3 linked regions of the Homo sapiens genome follow. The protein of the gene in region 1 interacts with the protein of each later gene in a pairwise test. Each region holds a gene or a part of one and is shown on either strand. Other genes may lie near its edges. The genes, in order: ASB13, HAPLN2 and NUDT3.

The links.
Region 2: the proteins of ASB13 (region 1) and HAPLN2 interact in binary tests that used the Homo sapiens proteins (3 or more experiments, as listed by UniProt).
Region 3: the proteins of ASB13 (region 1) and NUDT3 interact in a two-hybrid assay, tested with the Homo sapiens proteins (2 studies listed by BioGRID and IntAct).

What each region holds. Positions count from the first base shown.
Region 1 is NC_000010.11:5,641,388-5,650,451, forward strand, and holds part of ASB13 (ankyrin repeat and SOCS box protein 13), read right to left. Parts: intron 7,718-9,064; coding exon 7,583-7,717; intron 1,167-7,582; exon of another isoform or gene 1,086-1,166; intron 575-1,085; coding exon 383-574; intron 1-382. UniProt on the Homo sapiens protein: May be a substrate-recognition component of a SCF-like ECS (Elongin-Cullin-SOCS-box protein) E3 ubiquitin-protein ligase complex which mediates the ubiquitination and subsequent proteasomal degradation of target proteins.
Region 2 is NC_000001.11:156,622,415-156,626,225, forward strand, and holds the end of HAPLN2 (hyaluronan and proteoglycan link protein 2 precursor), read left to right. Parts: intron 1-1,052; coding exon of another isoform or gene 1,053-1,076; coding exon 1,077-1,161; intron 1,162-1,392; coding exon 1,393-1,746; coding exon of another isoform or gene 1,747-1,750; exon of another isoform or gene 1,751-1,883; intron 1,884-1,936; coding exon 1,937-2,053; intron 2,054-2,186; coding exon 2,187-2,369; intron 2,370-2,686; coding exon 2,687-2,970; 3' UTR 2,971-3,311; downstream 3,312-3,811. UniProt on the Homo sapiens protein: Mediates a firm binding of versican V2 to hyaluronic acid. May play a pivotal role in the formation of the hyaluronan-associated matrix in the central nervous system (CNS) which facilitates neuronal conduction and general structural stabilization.
Region 3 is NC_000006.12:34,279,179-34,284,669, forward strand, and holds the end of NUDT3 (diphosphoinositol polyphosphate phosphohydrolase 1), read right to left. Parts: 3' UTR 501-5,491; downstream 1-500. UniProt on the Homo sapiens protein: Cleaves a beta-phosphate from the diphosphate groups in PP-InsP5 (diphosphoinositol pentakisphosphate) and [PP]2-InsP4 (bisdiphosphoinositol tetrakisphosphate), suggesting that it may play a role in signal transduction.

The sequences.
Region 1 (9,064 bases):
CACTGCGCCTTTTCAAAACCATGGTTTTGGTTTTTTGAGACACGGCATTATATTTCAGCACCCAAACTTGTCATCAAACAACTAATCTGCAGCTAGGAGGCTCATCTGTCAAATGTCCAGCACAGGAGGCACAGGTCTGGTGCCCGGGCAGGTGTCGGCCACAGCTTCTGCTGCTCCACGCCACGGGCCACAGGGAACCCAGGGAGAGCTGGGGCAACAGCACAAACAGCCCCCGCAAAGTGCTTAAGGGTCTGTCCTAGCGCAGAGGACAGGAGCCAGGACTAACAGCCCAGCTCTCCGCGGAAGCCCACAGGGAGCCGGCACGTCAGGGGTCCAGGCTGAAGGCTGGAGGGGATGGGGTGCGCTCGGTGGGGTGTCTCACTTTCGTAGTACTCGAAGCACTTGGCGGGAGCGCTGCTGCTCCACGTGTAGTCAGACGGCTTCTTCCCGCGGTTGTCCCGGGCGTAGATGTTGCCGCCAAACTCGATAAGCATCTCGATGAGGTCAACATTCTTGACCTTGGCCGCGTGGTGAAGGGCAGTCTCATGAAGCTTTGCCGCATTCACGTTGGCCCCTGGAGGTCAAGAGTGCAGAAGAGATTTCACCAAGAAGAGAACTTGAAGTCAGGGGGACAATCAGGTCCGTTTCGTCACACAGCACGGTGGCAGAAGCAATCCCCACCCAGAAGACAAAATCAGGACAGACTCTACCGTAGCTTTCAAAAATGTTTTTCAACATCCAAAAGCAGGAACTACTTACTGTCCCCACTCATGAGAGATAAAGGTAGGCAGCAATAATAAAGAAATAACTAGAAATAGAACCGAAAAGAAGAAAAATAAAACGAAAAATGTCCTGAGTTAAACAACCGTTCTAATGCCCTATCAATCTGCCTTCAGGGGTCCTGAGATTTCCGGAAGCTCAAACCAGAGCCACTCAAGCACTCCCGCCTGGCCTCCAGCACAGACACACACTGCTTCTTCCTCTTGCGGGCCCAGGACGGAGGCTCCAGAAATACTGGTTGAATGAAAGAATAAATGTTCCTTAACAATGCATATTCTTTTACAAAAGGAAAACAGATAACGTACCCAAAACAGTAGGCAATTCAGAGAAGAGAGTAAGCTCTGCACTCCTCAACTTTCTCACGATAAGAGCAGACATTCATCAAGCTGATTAAAAGTAAAGGTAAAAAAAAATTTTTTTTTAAAAAAAAGAGCAGACATTCAGAAAGATGCAAGGAATTAGTAGCTAAATATGGCTGGTTTTGGGTTTTTTTTTTTGAGACAGAGTCTCACTCTGTTGCCCAGGCTGGAGTGCAGTGACATGATCTCGGCTCACTGCAACCTCCGCCTCCAGGGTTCAAGCGATTCTCCTGCCTCAGCCTCCCGAGTTGCTGGGATGACAGGTGTGCCACCATGCCCGGCTAATTTTTCTATTTTTTGTAGAGACGGGGTTTTGCCGTGTTGGCCAGGTTGGTCTCGAACTCCTGGCTACGGGCATGAGCCACCACACCTGGTCACATATGGCATTTTGCAACACACTAAAAAAAATTTTGATAAAAATATGATTTTTGTAACACATCATTCTTAGGGCACAGCCATCACTGATCCGATACAATGGAATCCCCCAGGGCTTCAGAATTCTTTTGAAAGAAAATGCCATTTTATTCGAAGTCTGTTCCTCAAGTAACAAAGGAGGTTATAAGAGAAAACAAATAAAAGAGAAGTGTTTTAAAGAAGCCAAGCAAATCGCCCAGCATCAGTAAAATAATTCGCCAAATGATAGATTCAAACCACAAACATAAAGTATTATCAAAAGTGGGATTTTAAAACAATCAGACACTAGCATGCCATCACTTCCCGACAGTCTCAGAGGGTCAAAAGAGGAGCTGAGAGGTGGAACGCTTTTACATTTTCTAGTTCCTCTAGCTCAAAAAGCATCGGAAAAATCCCGCTTTCTGCTTTAAAATATTTTAATCCCCTAAAAGCACATAAGAACCATGCTCATAACAGCATTCGTGGAGGGATCCTAAGAACGCCCCAGCCCTCCAAAGTGATGACATAATTTAAGAAAGTTCTTTCCACTTCCCGCAGCCAAAACTCAGAAGTCAGAACAGGAAAAGGATCTCTCAACTAGGAAAAATGCTAACTTATCTATGTCCTGAATTTGGCAGAAATGTACTACAAAAAAATAATATTCAAAAGCAATAGATTAAAGAAATATTTCCCCACAATTCAACCTCTCTTTCACATAAGGGGTTTTCCTCCAGTATAATGTTGCAATCATAACACGAAGTAAATTTTAACACTAAACATATGCTTGTAATGAAAAACAAATTGTACCATCCACAGAATCTAAAGTTCAAGTAGCTTTCTCTCATGTCATTAATTCTGGCAATATTCTTGCCAATTGGGAGAGAAAGAGATGGTCTCTATTTTAACAAAAGAAGAAAAACAGAGAAAGAGGCCCAAGGGAGGCACAGCTACTCTCTCACGATCAGGGAGAAAACCATGGCTGGAAAGAGCTCTAAAAATCACGCTCCCTGCCACGCTCCACAGACGAGGCCTTGGCCAGGGGCTCTTGCAGGGAGGCAGCCTTCCCAATGTACATCTTTTCAAAATGTGTGTTTGGCATCATTTGATTGGGTGGAAGGGAAGGAAGGTGAATAAGGAAGGAAATGAAATTGTGAATAAGGGATTGAAGGGAAACACCAGGCCAGGGGTGCAGGCAGCTACATGGATGGATCCTGAAAGTATAGCACTGAGTGAGCCAAGAAGAGAGTCAGAGATGAAACTCGATCAGCTATGTTCATTAAAAATATATGCTTGGGCCAGGTACAGGGCTCACGCCTGTAATCTCAGCACTTTGGGAATTCGAGGCGAGCGGATCTCTTGGGCCCAGGAAATCGAGACCAGCCTGCGCAACATAGTGAGACCCTAGCTCTACAAAAATTTAAAAATTACCCGGGGGGCGTGATGGCACACATCTGTGGTCCCACCTACTCTGGAGGCTGAGGTAGGAGGATCACTTGAGCCCGGGAGGTTGAGGCTGCAGCAAGCCACGATCGTACCACTGCACTCCAGCCTGGATGACAGAGTGAGGCCCATAGTGAGAAAGAGAACATAAACAGGTACTCGTTAGAGGAAAACAGGGCCAGACACGGTGGCTCATGCCTGTAATCCCAGCACTTTGAGAGCCTGAGGCGGGCAGATCACCTGAGGTCAGGAGTTCAAGACCAGCCTAGCCAATATGGTGAAACCTCGTCTCTACTAAAAATCCAAAAATTACCTGGGCGTGGTGGTGCACATCTATAATCCCAGCTACTCAGGAGGCTCAGGCATGAGAATCGCTTGAACCAGGGAGATGGAGGCTGCAGTGAGCAGAGATCACACCACTGCACTCCAGCCTGGGTGACAGAACGAGACTCCATCTCAGAAAAAAAAGAAAGAAAGAAGGGAACAGATACAGAGGAAAGAAGGAAGAGAGAAAGAGGGTAGGAGAGGGAAAGAAAGTAACTTTGTGTGAAGCAAGGATGGTAACATACCTTGAACTGAGAGGCAAGAGAAAGACTGAGGCAGAGACAGAGACACAGAGACAGAGAGAGACAAAGACAGGGAGCCAGGAAACAAGCAGGGAATTAAAAGCTCTGAACTTCGTGCTTCAGAGAAAAGGGGTCAACACAGGCTCATTACCAAAATCCTGCTTTCAACACAAAATAGGATTAAAGTGGATTCAGAGAACCCGTGGCCAGTGACGTGACGGGACCGCCTAAGACCTTAGCACGCCAAGACTGGCACAATCCTGGAACATAAACACAAATAGCTCAATAGGTGCTTGTTACCACAAGAGAAATTGAAAAAAAAAATTAAATTTAAAAAATTATAATTAAAAAATTTTTTAAAAATTAAACAACAATTTTAAAAAAATTTTTTAAATTGTGCCAGGGCCAGTGCTAAGAACAAAGGTGGAAGCAGGACCGTCCTCAGGGAGCCGCTTCCGAACACTCCTGGCAGAGTTCAACATTCACTGTCAGTGATCAGATTAAAAATTACTTCACCATCATAACCGGACTTTCACCCTCCCCAGCCCTCCTCCTTTGCAAATACAATCTGGTTCCTGGACTCGCCTCACTGCCTACAAAGAACAAGAACAACGGTCTCCACGTCCCCCGTGGGGTGCAACGTGGCTCTGCCTCACAGCTCAGCTCTCAAACCGCACATGAAAGCACCTGCACTCATGTGGGCCCCGACTGGTTCAATCCCTCTCCCCTCTCCACAGTAACTGGTTCAAATGATCCAGGCTTGAGCCGATCAGAATTTGGCAAAGTTTGGGCAAAGGGACTGGGGAGGGGTGCAGGAAAAGGGACTTTCCACTCTTCTGTTTTTCTAGAGACACGGTCCCTGGCTTTCCTTTGGTTTCCCGAGGGATCTGTGACCTGACCCCAAAAGATCAGAATCACTACTTTTTAAAAATCTGTTTGTGAGGACGTAGGGGATGCTGTTGTTTCTCTCTCCTCTGTATGTTTGAAATTTTCCGCAATGAAAAAATGGTTTCTAAGAAGAAGATGATGATCCATCTGCTCTCACAAGGGGTACTAGAGGAGACCACCCAAGAGTAGGATGGGAACCAGGAATCCCGCGTGGAGCTGATGGCTGGATGCTACCCACAGCATCGAGCCAACACCAACAGTCACTGTGCGGAGGCTTCCCCAAGAAAGCCACGTTCACCTCTAACTCCCCAGGGGCATGCAAACTCCCGGGGAGAGCTGTGGGAACCCCACTTTAGGGCGACAGTGGGCCTCACAGCTGCCCCTTCCTTTCCAGCCCCCACCCCCGACTGTGCTGCCACCTGGTAATGTGGTGGGGGCGGGAGCAGACCTGACTTCAGCTCCAGCGTGGGTCCCGCCTAGTCCAATCCCTCTCCCCTGACCACAGTAATTAGTTCTAATGACCCAGGCTTCAGCCCATCAGAATTTGGCAAAGTTTGGGCAAAGGGACTGGGGAGGGGTGTGTGAAAAGGGATTTTCCACTCCGCTGAAAGAGCCTCCAGAAGGCTTAAAACAGGAAACGTCTGGCGTGTAGGCCTGAAGCCACTGCAGCCCCGTGACCTTGCTCAGGGAGGCCGGAGGCTTAGGATGAAGCCAATACTGAGGAAAGCAGAATCGCAACGTTCAAAGAAACTGAGGCCTGGGTGACACCACGGAACCTCCGGTCCAGCCGCCCCTAATCCTGCTCTGCGTCTCAGCCCTGAAGTCACCTGAACTAGAAATGCCCGCCATTGTTTACCAGTGGAAGTGGCTTCCTGTTACTCGCAAAGGTGTCCAACTGACATGAAGTCCTAACTGATACAGAAAGGATGTTTGCTTTAAACACTAAGTTGATCCCTTTCCCTACAACCACACCAAACAGAACGAAGGTAAAAATGGAACTCGTGTGTACTGAGCTCATAAAGGCTTGATATGAACGCACTGCGCTGTGTTCATAGAAACGGATCCAGCTGCCAGAGGAACGGCTCGGCTGGAAACGCTTACACCTGCTTCCAATGGAGATACTTCTAAGACAGTGTATAAAAAAATTAAAAGTACCTCAACAACTATTCCTACACAAAACGAATCTTTTCCACTAAAAAGACTGAAAAGTGGCACATGAAAGTGAGTAAGATTCTCCAATAAAAAACTACACATAACTAAGCTCAAATGGCTGTCATCAGGGGGAATTCATGATCTTCCTGTTCCCAAACAGGTTTGTTCTTGTTGTTAAGAGAAGGGGACTTGCTATGTTTCCCAGGCTGGCTGAAACTCCCGGGCTCAAGCAATCCTCCCGCCTCAGCCTCCCAAAGTGCTGAGACTATGGCTGTGAGCCACAGTGCCCAGCCATCCTAAACAGTTTTGTTTTTATCCTACACTACACCCAGAATTTGGATAAGATGATGAAACTAAAATTTTCCCTCAACAAAACATTTAAGTTGGGTTGATAAAAACCCTGTGCTAACAGTCACTTTGGCTAAAACTTTTGGTATAGACAGGTCCTGAGCCTAATCCTCGATTGGTTGGTCTTTTTGGTTTTGATTTTTTTCCCTCTTTGGGAATCTCAATCCTGAGTCTTTTCGAACACCCGACAATGGCCTGGATTCCAAATGCTCCATATTCTCCTAAACGCTGCCAACTCCACTTCCCATTACATCCCCTTCTCTCTTGGATTCAGGCAGCAACCTCACCAGGCAGCTGTGGGGACAGTGGCCTGTGATCTCTAGAAATAATCATTGGCATCTGTTGAGTACCTACTAGGACACACCAGGCACCGGGGAAACATCCTCAGTTCTCCCAGCAACCTGCAGCATAGATTCTTCCAGTGTTACAGATATGTAAACTGAGGCCCGAGGTCTCAGCTGGCAAGTAAGAGAGCCAGCCTCCAACCCTGGTCCCTCTGACTCCTCTACCCAGCTCTCTGCTAGGCACAGTAAATACCTGTTCAGGTAAATGCTCGTGCAAGTAAACACCTGCTCAGGTGAACAGCCTTGCAAGTATATACCCATTCAGGCAAACTTCTCAGATAAATCCATAAATACACACTCTGCAGGTAAACACCCACTCAGGCAAACACCCACTCAGGCAAACACCCACTCAGGCAAACACCCACTCAGGTAAACACCTACTCAGGCAAACACCCACTCAGGTAAACACCCACGCAGGCAAACACCCACGCAGGCAAACACCCACTCAGGTAAACACCCACACAGGTAAACACCCACTCAGGTAAACAACCACGCGGGTAAACACTCACGGGGGTAAACACCCACTCAGGTAAACACCCACGCAGGCAAACACCCACTCAGGTAAACACCCACGCAGGCAAACACCCACTCAGGTAAACACCCACTCAGGTAAACACCCACGTGGGCAAACACCCACTCAGGTAAACACCCACTCAGGCAAACACCCCCTCGGGTAAACACCCACGTGGGCAACACCCACGGGGGTAAACACCCATGCAGGCAAACACCCACTCAGGCAAACACCCCCTTGGGTAAACACCCACTCAGGCAAACACCCACTCAGGTAAACACCCACGCAGGCAAACACCCACTCAGGTAAACACCCACTCGGGCAAACACCCACTCGGGTAAACACCCACGCGGGCAAACACCTACTCAGGTAAACACCCACTCAGGTAAACACCCACGCAGGCAAACACCCACGCAGGCAAACACCCCCTCGGGTAAACACCCACGGGGGTAAACAACCACGCAGGTAAACACCCACGCGGGCAAACACCCACTCGGGCAAACACCCCCTCGGGTAAACACCCACGCGGGCAAACACCCCCGGGGGTAAACACCCACGCAGGTAAACACCCACACGGGCAAACACCCACTCAGGCAAACACCCACTGGGGTAAACACCCACGCGGGCAAACACCCACTCCGGTAAACACCCACGCGGGCAAACATCCACTCCGGTAAACACCCACTCGGGTAAACACCCACTCGGGCAAACACCCACTTGGGCAAACACCCACGCAGGTAAACACCCGCTCGGGCAAACACCCACTCAGGTAAACACCCGCTCGGGCAAACACCCACTCACCTGCATTGAGCAGCACTTTGACACAGTCCAGATGCTCCCGGGCACAGGCAACGTGCAGAGGGGTCCCAAAATGGCAATCGTGCGCTTCCAGATTGGCCCCGACGTCAATAAGAAGCCTCACACATTCGGAACTCCCTTAAGATAAATGGAAAAGGGGGGGAATGTCCTTGAATACGGACACTGGAGACAACAAGCACACAGACGCGGCAGGGGCAGCAGCCTCCATCCTTGGTGCAGGGCAGGGAAGCCAGGCAGGCCTGCGTCCCAACCTAGGGAGGAGTTCATGACCCGCATGGCCCTCAGGAAGCCAGGACACGGCTCTGCGCCCCGCTGAGGACGGAGGGCTCAAGGCAGTGGGAGAAACGGGCCTGGCCGGCTTCTTGCTGTGAGAACAGAAGACATGGGGCACCACCTAGAATGGGTCAGGGAAAACTCCCCCGCTGCCCCCCTGCCCTGTGTCTACCTGCGGCTGTCAGCACTGAGCCCAGCCTCCCAGGAAACCCCCCAGACTTTCTTATGCAGGTCATCCTCCTGTGCACCACGGCAGCCGCCTCTCCTGCCTCTTTTTTTTTTTTAGACAAAGTCTCATTCTGTTGCCCAGGATGGAATGCAGTGGTGCGATCTCAGCTCACTACAACCGCCATCTCCCGGGTTAAAGCGATTCTCCCACCTCAGCCTCCCAAATAGCTGGAATTACAGGCATGCACCACCGTGCCCGACTAATTTTTTTGTATTTTTAGTAGAGACAGGGTTTCACCATGTGCCAGGCTGGTCTCAAACTCCTGACCTCAGGTGATCCGCCCACCTCAGCCTCCCAAAGTGCTGGGATTACCAAGGGCATGAGCCACAGCGCCCGGCCTCTCCTGCCTCTTAAGTGGCTCCTCTTCCTGGGTCTGTAATGCGGATTTGGAGCGGGGTTCCAGGCCCCCCATCCTCCCGCCCCTGCACATTCCGTCTAGGCTCCAACCTTTCCGTTCACTCAATTACCTCTTCACTGTTGGCAGCTCCCTAATTTTCCCCACCAGCCTCACACCCAGCCCCAGCCCCAGAGCCATGTGCTGGCCACCGGCCGGTGTCTCCCACTCTAGAGCCCTCTCCCTTTCCTGGGGTCCTTGCTCCTGACTCAAACCTGACTCATTTCTGACCTCTTGAGCCTCCCCTTCATACGAAATCCTATGGATTCCTTCCCCAACCCTACTAAATGAAACCATCCCACTCCACCAGCCTACTCTGAGCACTGGGCACCTTGATCTCAGCGATGGTCCCCAACTCATCCCTCTGCTTCCAGGAGACCCCAGCCACCACTGCACCTCCGTCTATCTGCACATGGAGGACCACTAAATGAACCTTCCCCAAATTCTGTTTTCCTGACCCTCGACATCTGCTCAGAAACCTTCAAGAGCTCCCTGGAGCTGTCCCATGGCCTGCAGACATGGAAAGACCTACGAGCAGGAATCAGGGGTGAGCCACATGCAGCCATGG
Region 2 (3,811 bases), on another chromosome or scaffold:
CTGCACTCCAGTCTGGGCGAGAGAGTAAAACCCTGTCTCAAAAAAAAAAAGGTCCGCAGTCCAGCAGATCACAGTGCACTACAGTGTGGCAAACTGGGGGTGGGTAAAGGTTTCCCAAAGGAGGTGAGGCCTGTGCGACCAATGCAGGCACAAAGGAAAGGAAATGAATGCAAACTTGGACTGTGTGGGAAACTGCCAGAAATCCAGCATGTCAGGGGAACAGTGCAGAGGCCAAAGTGGTTAAGAGGCGAGGCGGGGACCATGCTGGAGGTGCAGGGAGCAACTGGATTATAGACAGCCTTGGAAGCTGTGGTTATGAGATTGGATTTTATCCTCAGGGCAACTGGGAGTCACTTTCAAGCAGGAGAGTGACAAGGCCAGGCACGGTGGCTCACGCCTGCTGTAATCCCAGCACCAGCCTTGTCAACACAGCATGACCTTGTCTCTACTAAAAACTTAAAAAGAAACAATTAGCTGGGTGTGGTGGCACATGTCTGTAGTTCCAGCTACTCAGGAGGCTGAAATGGGAGGATCACCTGGAGCTGGAAGTTAGGGGCTGCAGTGAGCCATGATCATGCCACGGGACTCCAGCCTGGACCATGGAGCAACACTCTGTCTCAAAAAAATAAATAAATAAATAAATAAATAAATAAATAAATAAATAAAATAAAAAAGCAGGAGAGTGATAAGATCATTTTGACTCTGGCTTCAAGATGGAGAATGGGTGTTGGGAGAGGATAGAGACGAGCTGGCAGTCCAGATGGCAAGCTTGGGAAGTAGCACTTGTGATGAGGGGGACAGGTAGAGAAGATGCTAAATTAGTACCTGCAGGCTGAGAGGATGTGACAGAGGAAGAGAGGGAGAGGAAGGGGATTGCTACTGCCTTCTTCCCCTCATCACCTTCATTTTGTCACCAACCCCTTTTCTCTGCCCCAGTGGCTTCCAGCTGGACAGTCCCTTCTAGGATCTCTGATGGGAGTTCACCCACAACCCTGCTCTTCCCCACCCTTTTGCCCCAGTCCTAAGAACTGCCCACTCTTTGTGCCCTGCAGACGGTGCCGGGCTGACCCCCCATCATGCCAGGCTGGCTCACCCTCCCCACACTCTGCCGCTTCCTTCTTTGGGCCTTCACCATCTTCCACAAAGCCCAAGGAGACCCAGGTAAGACCCCAGCCCAGGCCAGAATCTGGGGGAGGCTTGGGGAGACTGCAAGGGTGGGGAAAGGGGAAAGGGCAGTTGTTGCAGGTACCCAGGGACTGAAAGTCATTGCTGAGAAGGCAATGGAGGAGAGGGTTGGGGGGCTCTGGAGAAAGCATTTGGGGAGCAGGGTCTGATGGGCACTTGGGGCAGTGAGGATTGGGGGTTCCTGCCACTGTGGCCCCCTCTGCCCAGCATCCCACCCGGGCCCCCACTACCTCCTGCCCCCCATCCACGAGGTCATTCACTCTCATCGTGGGGCCACGGCCACGCTGCCCTGCGTCCTGGGCACCACGCCTCCCAGCTACAAGGTGCGCTGGAGCAAGGTGGAGCCTGGGGAGCTCCGGGAAACGCTGATCCTCATCACCAACGGACTGCACGCCCGGGGGTATGGGCCCCTGGGAGGGCGCGCCAGGATGCGGAGGGGGCATCGACTAGACGCCTCCCTGGTCATCGCGGGCGTGCGCCTGGAGGACGAGGGCCGGTACCGCTGCGAGCTCATCAACGGCATCGAGGACGAGAGCGTGGCGCTGACCTTGAGCTTGGAGGGTGAGGCCCTTCCGCTCCCGCCCCATTCCTGTGTAGCAGCGGGTCCGCCTCGCCTGGGTCTCCCAGGGCTCCTTCCCAGTATCTCCTCCGCACCCCTGGGGACCCCAGCTCCCTCTCCCAGGCCGCGCCGCCCTTCCTCCCCCTCCGCTCCCATCCGCTGGCCCTCCCCAGGATCCCCGCCACCCCCTAGGTGTGGTGTTTCCGTACCAACCCAGCCGGGGCCGGTACCAGTTCAATTACTACGAGGCGAAGCAGGCGTGCGAGGAGCAGGACGGACGCCTGGCCACCTACTCCCAGCTCTACCAGGGTGAGCGGCCGAACCCAGCACTTCCCAAGCCCCGCGGAGCTGTCTCAGGGGCCCGAGAGAGGGCGCCAGGCGAGCTCAGTCTGGCTCCTGCCTATGACGCCTCTTATCCCCGACCTCCGCCGTCTCCCGCCAGCTTGGACCGAGGGTCTGGACTGGTGTAACGCGGGCTGGCTGCTCGAGGGCTCCGTGCGCTACCCTGTGCTCACCGCACGCGCCCCGTGCGGCGGCCGAGGCCGGCCCGGGATCCGCAGCTACGGACCCCGCGACCGGATGCGCGACCGCTACGACGCCTTCTGCTTCACCTCCGCGCTGGCGGGTGAGGCGCGGGACGAAGGCAGGGTCTTGGGGAGGGGTCTGAAAAATGTGGGGGACGAGGAGTGGACCTCAGCTTGAGATCAGGGCAGGGTCTCCGGGTCCCTCCAAGGCACCGCCCCCCCATCAGCCCGCCCGCCCGCCCAGGCTCCAGCTCACCTCTCCAAACCCTCCCTGCACTTTTGCCTCGATCCCCCAACTCCTCTTACCCAAGCTCGATCCAGCACCTCTGCGGTCCCGCACCCCAACTCCGCCTCCTGGGTGTCAGCCGCCCCTCTCCGCCCACCCTGCCCTCGGTCGGTGACCCGCTGTGGTCCCCAGGCCAAGTGTTCTTCGTGCCCGGGCGGCTGACGCTGTCTGAAGCCCACGCGGCGTGCCGGCGACGCGGCGCCGTGGTGGCCAAGGTTGGGCACCTCTACGCCGCCTGGAAGTTTTCGGGGCTAGACCAGTGCGACGGCGGCTGGCTGGCTGACGGCAGTGTGCGCTTCCCAATCACCACGCCGAGGCCGCGCTGCGGGGGGCTCCCGGATCCCGGAGTGCGCAGTTTCGGCTTCCCCAGGCCCCAACAGGCAGCCTATGGGACCTACTGCTACGCCGAGAATTAGGCGCCCACCGTGTCCCCTCCAGCGCGCGCGAAGAAGCTTGGGAGTCGTGGCGGGGGTCTCTCGCCACCCCTTTCCGGAGAGCCTCCCCTCCCTCCAGACCCGGAGCGGCCTCTCCAGACCTGCCTTCCCAGCCGGGGGCTGCGGGCCTCGGACCCCGGCTGGCCCGGCGGCGGGGAGGGGAGGCGGGGGCGCCTCCGGCGGCGAGATGCAGAGGTGACCCTCGGACCCGCTGCCGTTCGCGAACCCTAGCAGAGGACTCAGCCACCGCCGGGGGGAGGGTGAGGCGGCCGGGGGCATTAACTGACCTCTGAGTACAGCAATAAAATAACCTGGGGATCTTTTGTGTTGGGTGGAGCTGTAAGAGCTGCGAGGCGTGGAGGGGTGTGTGTGTGTGTGTGTGCACGCTCATGTCGGGGCTGATGACCCGGGATCCTGCGTGCCCACTGAGCACCTAAGACAGGGTAAGGGGCAGGGCTGTTGCTGTTAAGGGATGGGTCAGCGGAAGAGCGGGAGTGCGGCCGGAGGGCACCAATAGGCCAAGGGAGAGAGAGAAGTGGAGACGTAGTGGGCGCCTGGCCCAGGACCCACGCAGAACCCAGCATGTTGTTGCGCCAGGCGCCACGCGGGGGCGCCGCACACTCACCTAAGATTAGTTCAAATCTGCCAGGGGCGCCCCATGCCACCAGGCCCACCCTATGTGCCCCAGATAACAAATATAAGACAACTTAAACATATTTCAAAATGTGCAGGCTGCAGACCTCCCTGAAGCGTTTGCGGGGACTACTGTTAAAGATAGGAAAGTCATATTGTTGCTAGAATTGACAGGAAATTAACCTTGCGT
Region 3 (5,491 bases), on another chromosome or scaffold:
CTCACTTAATGCTGCTCTCCCACTGATGATGCCCACCCATTCTCGGCCTGCAAGCCCTACCACTCACAGCTTCAAAAATGGCTCCGCCCTTCCTGATTCCACCCCACACAGAAGAAAGCAACTTCTTGTGATGCTTCCTTATTCTGGATGTGGCTCACCTCTTACCCCTTCCAACTCCTTTGGGTCCCCTAGAAAGCCTCCCTGGCTAAGGGGTACAGGCCCTCTCCTCAGCAGTGGGCACTGACCGTCTAACCAGGGCTCTGTCTCGGCACCTGGTAGCAAGGACGGCAAGATACAACAACATGCTGATTTTAATAGCCTCTGGCTTTCTCCACTGCGTTTCTCACCTGAATGCCCTGCACACCAAATCTTCCATGGGGTCACCCTTGACCTCTAGGGCAATTCCCAAGAATCTAGCAGAGGAGTGGGGGAAACCAAAAGGCTGACATGAAGGACTCAAGGGAAGCCTCTGGAAAGAAGAGACCAGACACTAAAAGGGATGTGTGTGAAATACTGGTTTTTATTGGTTGGCACAAGATTACAACCTACAATTTCAATGCCCTTCCCTCCCACACAGCTCAAATGGAAGGAAACTGATTAACACATAGAAAGGAACGGCAGGCTCACAGGTTTAAGCATTTGTTTTTACAAAAAGGAGTGGGATATGGGGGTGGTCAAGTTTTACGGGTAATAACAACATTCTCTCTAGATGGCAGGGGGTAAGTCTGCCTGTCCTCCATTGCTGGTACCACATAAGGGATACATTAGTAAAGTAGGGAAAGGGTTATATGTGTGGCTGGCCTGTTCTTTAGAGAGGAAGGTGGGATGGTATCTGCTGTGTACCTGTCTCAGACCAAACCTGGGGCTGGACCAGTGCCCCTTTCTTCTCAGCCCTCCTCCACAGCCTGACTGTACTGCCAGCCGCACCCATGAGAAGGAGGTGTGAAGGAAGCCTGAGGACATCCACCTCGAGAAAAGGAAACAGGAAAACTATTTCCTTCCGCCTTCTCTGGACCAAATTTCACTCCCCTCAGCTCCAGAGAGTGCTGCAAAAATCTTCCTTAGGGACGCTGTGAAGACACGGGGAAGAGGCCAGCCCTGAGCGGGCAAGAAGAAAAGCTTGAACTTTCCATGCAGTACCAAGCAAGGCTATTTTGGAAACAAGCAAACAAACAAAAAATGGAAACCAACACCATATAACCACAGGTTGGGTAGCTCCTAAATCCTGGACAGCATTTGGATTGGGGGTAAGGGCAATTTTACTCCAGCTCCTTGTTTTATAACCCGCACAAGGTGCCAAGAGGTTTAAGGACCACAACTGACCTCTCTTTCCCTACAAGCACCATTCCTTGGATTCCCAGTTTTGTTGAGCTCATTTGAGGTCATCCTTGCCATCCTCTTAAAAAATGACACAGCCTCTTGGTTATTCCATTTTCTATCCCTTTCTACAATTATGAACACACTCTCTAAACAGGAGATCTATATATGCTCTCATCCTGCAACCCAAGAGATTAGGTGACCTAATGATGAGAAGGCTAACTTATTTGCTTTCCTGGGTGGTCCTGATGGAAATGAACAGCAGCAGAGTTCTGGTGGGATAGAGCAGTCTAGTCTGAGCCACTGTGTGATTCCCCAGGGGACTGGTCCCTGGGTACATGGGTCCCTGGCTCTCTGTCTCAGTTCCACAGATATTACTCAACTTGGCCATTTACGCCTCAGCTAAAACATATGAGCATGAGGGAAAAGGGACAAGAAATACTTTTGTCCTCTAGAAAAACTTAACTCAATACATCTTGGCTACTTTGCCTCAACCCACGGGGTTCCCTGGAAACATTTGTTGAACTTGGCCAAGAGGAGATTGTATATGGATGGCACACCTGGAAAAGGGGAGAAAGCACACTAGTTCATCTCTTTTATAAGTAGAATGGTCCCAGGGATGTTAACCTTTCTGATGCTGATAGTAGATGAGTGGAGTGGAGGTAATCGTGAGAAAACTTAAAAACCCTTAAGCTGTTTGGAGACTACACACCACAGTGGAGCAAACCAAGGTGGGGCCTCACTGCCTCCTCAGAGCCCATCCCTGACCATGTCATTGGATAGGATGGAAGACAAAGTCTTTGAAATGGAGGCTGGGCTGGCAAAAGTAAGTATGAAGATGCTACTACTGGCCTTCCACTTCCTCTCTCTGATACACCTAAGAAGGTGAGAGACACTAGCTTCAATTCCATTTTACAACAGTTCTCAACAACCTGAAATATTCTTGACTTCCTTAAGCACATGGAAAACTGGTAAGCTATATCTTTCTAACTGAAATTTTACTTATTCTAACCACCAACCTTTTCTTTGATTATCAACCAGTTTGACAGTCTTCAGATCACAAAACAATAGAACAGACCTGACATTTACAAAACTGTACTACATACTTATTTCTTTTACAGTAGAGCTGACCAATTACTTTTCTAACTACTAATGCAACACCATGCCACTGGGCCCTGGACTCTGATGTTTCTGATCCCTGAGCAACACATCTATGTCCATTCACAGATGGAAATGAAAGAGTGAGATTCTCAGAGGCTAAACAACATTCTGGGAGCAAATTGGATTTTTGAAGGGAGAGTCCTCTTAGAAAATTCTGAGCAAACATGCTCCCAGTCACGAGGGATGGGGTGAGCGGGCAGGTTTCTGTCTGTGAGCTATAGCTCCCTTCTGAACTCCCTCATGTTCTTGGGAGGACACAAGCCTCTTGCTCATTAAGCAAAGGCCCTCCAAGTCTCCTTTTTACTTCAGCACTTTGGAAACTCTCCAAGACTTAACTTCCGATCTGGGGAGGTTCTACGTGGAGCAGACCTATCCCTTCTTATTCCTGTTCCTGGGTGTCTCCATAATCAGCCTCTACCTTCCCTGGCATAAGTCATATCTGTTATGCTGCAGGAACTGAGTAACCAAAGCTAGATATCCCTTGGACCACTGATTAGTGACACATTTTCTCCACAACAAAGGGAGGTTAAAGACAAAGGTTTAACCTGAGAAACTTTTTTTTTGGCAAGATAATAAAGAGGTTAAAGAGGCTACGTGGATCTGTCACTGCTTTAGCTTACCATTTTCAATTCAGCACCAAAGTGCTCAGAAAGACAGGCTCAGATCAGGACGACTTCTTAAAGGGATTCACAGGCAATATTACTGGCAAAATGATTTTCCAAAGCTGAGCCACGCGCCCCACCCTACAGGGAGGGGAGTAGAATCTTATGGCCCAGCATTGGCATTGAGGCATCTTGCTTTTTTTCCTCAGAATTCCACAAAGGCTTAAGAGTGATCTAAATGCCTGGCTGGAAGCTCAAGTCTAGGAGAGCTATTTTACTGCACTGTTGAGATGTTCTCTGCAAGGTAGTCACAGATAATAAGCAATTTAGTAGATAATTATTCTATACAAGAATTAATGTTCTCTGAAACAGTGATTAATAGAATCTTCACATCTGGCCTGGCTGGGAGGCTTGGGGGCAGGAAAGGGAGGGTGGAAGGATGGGTAGCACATCAAAATGGTGATGAACCTGGCAAAACGACAATGCTGCTGTTTTTGTATCCTTTAAAGCCTATATCCAGGGTTTTAAATGACGCTTTTTTTGTGTGCTTCCTGATAGGAAGTCAAATAAGTTTTAGTATTAAGAACTGGGGATATAAACCAAAGGAAACCTAGAGTCAACTGACTGCTGGAGGAACAGAAGCAATGACTTCTTTCCACCTTCTAGATAGTAATCTTACTTTTGTTGGCTAAAAGCACTTTCTTCAGCATTCTGAGTTAACACGGGTTCCCTATAAGCTCCCCTCCCCAGGTGGACAGTCTTATTTTCTAAGACAAGCTCAAAGCTCAAACTCACCAAATTACCACTATAAACAAAGCTTCAGGGAAGAGACATAACCTTACTTCAAAAGCTTCAGGTCAGAGACAGCCAAAATCATGTGACTGCTAGCCTCAGCTCAAGTAGTGTGCCCAAATCATCACAAAATGGGATTCCCTTCCCTTTTCTTTTTTTTTTTTTTTTTTTTGAGACGGAGTCTTGCTCTGTCGCCTAGGCTGCAGTGCAGTGGCGGGATCTCGGCTCACTGCAACATCCACCTCCTGGGTTCAAGCGATTCTCCTGCCTCAGCCTCCCGAGTAGCTGGGACTACAGGAGCGTGCCACTACACCTGGCTAATTTTTGTATTTTTAGTAGAGATGGGGTTTCACCATATTGGTCAGGCTGGTCTTGAACTCCTGACCTTGTGATCCACCCGCCTCGGCCTCCCAAAGTGCTGGGATTACAGGCGTGAGCCACCATGACCAGCCCTCCATTTATTAATTTATAAGGGGACTAGAAGGACAAACTATTTGATTAATTTGAAGGTGAGAGGTATCATTTTCTCAGATGCTCCAACTAGGCTTCTCACATCCCTCAAAGGTTATCAGCTAAAGACAAGAGTTTCTGAGGCTAATGCAAAAACATGGTCAAATGTGAAACCGCCCTTTTAGAGGCAGGGTTTGTGAAAGGCTGCTGGCCTCCAAAGGAGAGTATGCCTAAACTCTCTGGGCTCCCAGGACCTGTGGTGACCTCAAGCTAACCTGATGCACAGACAACAGTATCTTTTAGGGACTGCAGCCAATGTTCCCCAATTTACTTTTTTTTTATACCTTAAAATATCAAATGTTTCATTTTTAGGTGATATCCCAAGTGACACAGAAACACAGCTCCTCCGGATGGTGAAGTCTCCGCTGCAAAACTCACGAAACAGCACAGAGGATGACTCTAGGGTGCTCTCCCACTTGCTCCAAGTTAGGCAGGTGCCCTGATGGAGGCAAGGCTGAGCCATTAACATGCACAGCTCCATATCCTGGAAGCCTCTGTAGCCTTGAGGAGATAGGCTCTATCCAACAGGACTCAGAATAAATGACTGCCACCTCAACTGAGCAGTATGAACTGCCCACCTCAACTGGGCAGTCTGACCTCTTCCACAGTCTTTAAGAAACAGAAGAGCCATTTGCATTATTTAATCACCATTCAATAATCTCCTCCCTCCCCATAGCTGCTTGAGTTAACTGTCCCACAAGTGTCCTGTGTTTTGTAAAGATGAGGGTTATTTTCTGAAATGCAGATGGGACTAGGATGAAGCTGTATTATCAATTACAGAGACAGCCAACTCTCATTTCTCTTAAAGCAAAAATTCATTCCACTGTGATTTCTCCAGGTATTTCCTGCAATTCTAAATCCGCCCTTGATATTAGAGAATATTAAAATCACACAGTTGTGGCAAAAATCACATTGTGGCTATTAAATCCTTTTTGTGAACTAAAAAAAGTGAATGTGGCTTAGGCTAAGCTGTTTTTTTTTTTTTTTTTTTAAAGATGAGGATGCGGACTCCAACAAAGGCATTAAGAAAGTACTAGATGAAAATGAGAAATATGTGAAGGATAACATGTGAAATGTACACTCAGGTCTAACAAATACCTATTATTTCT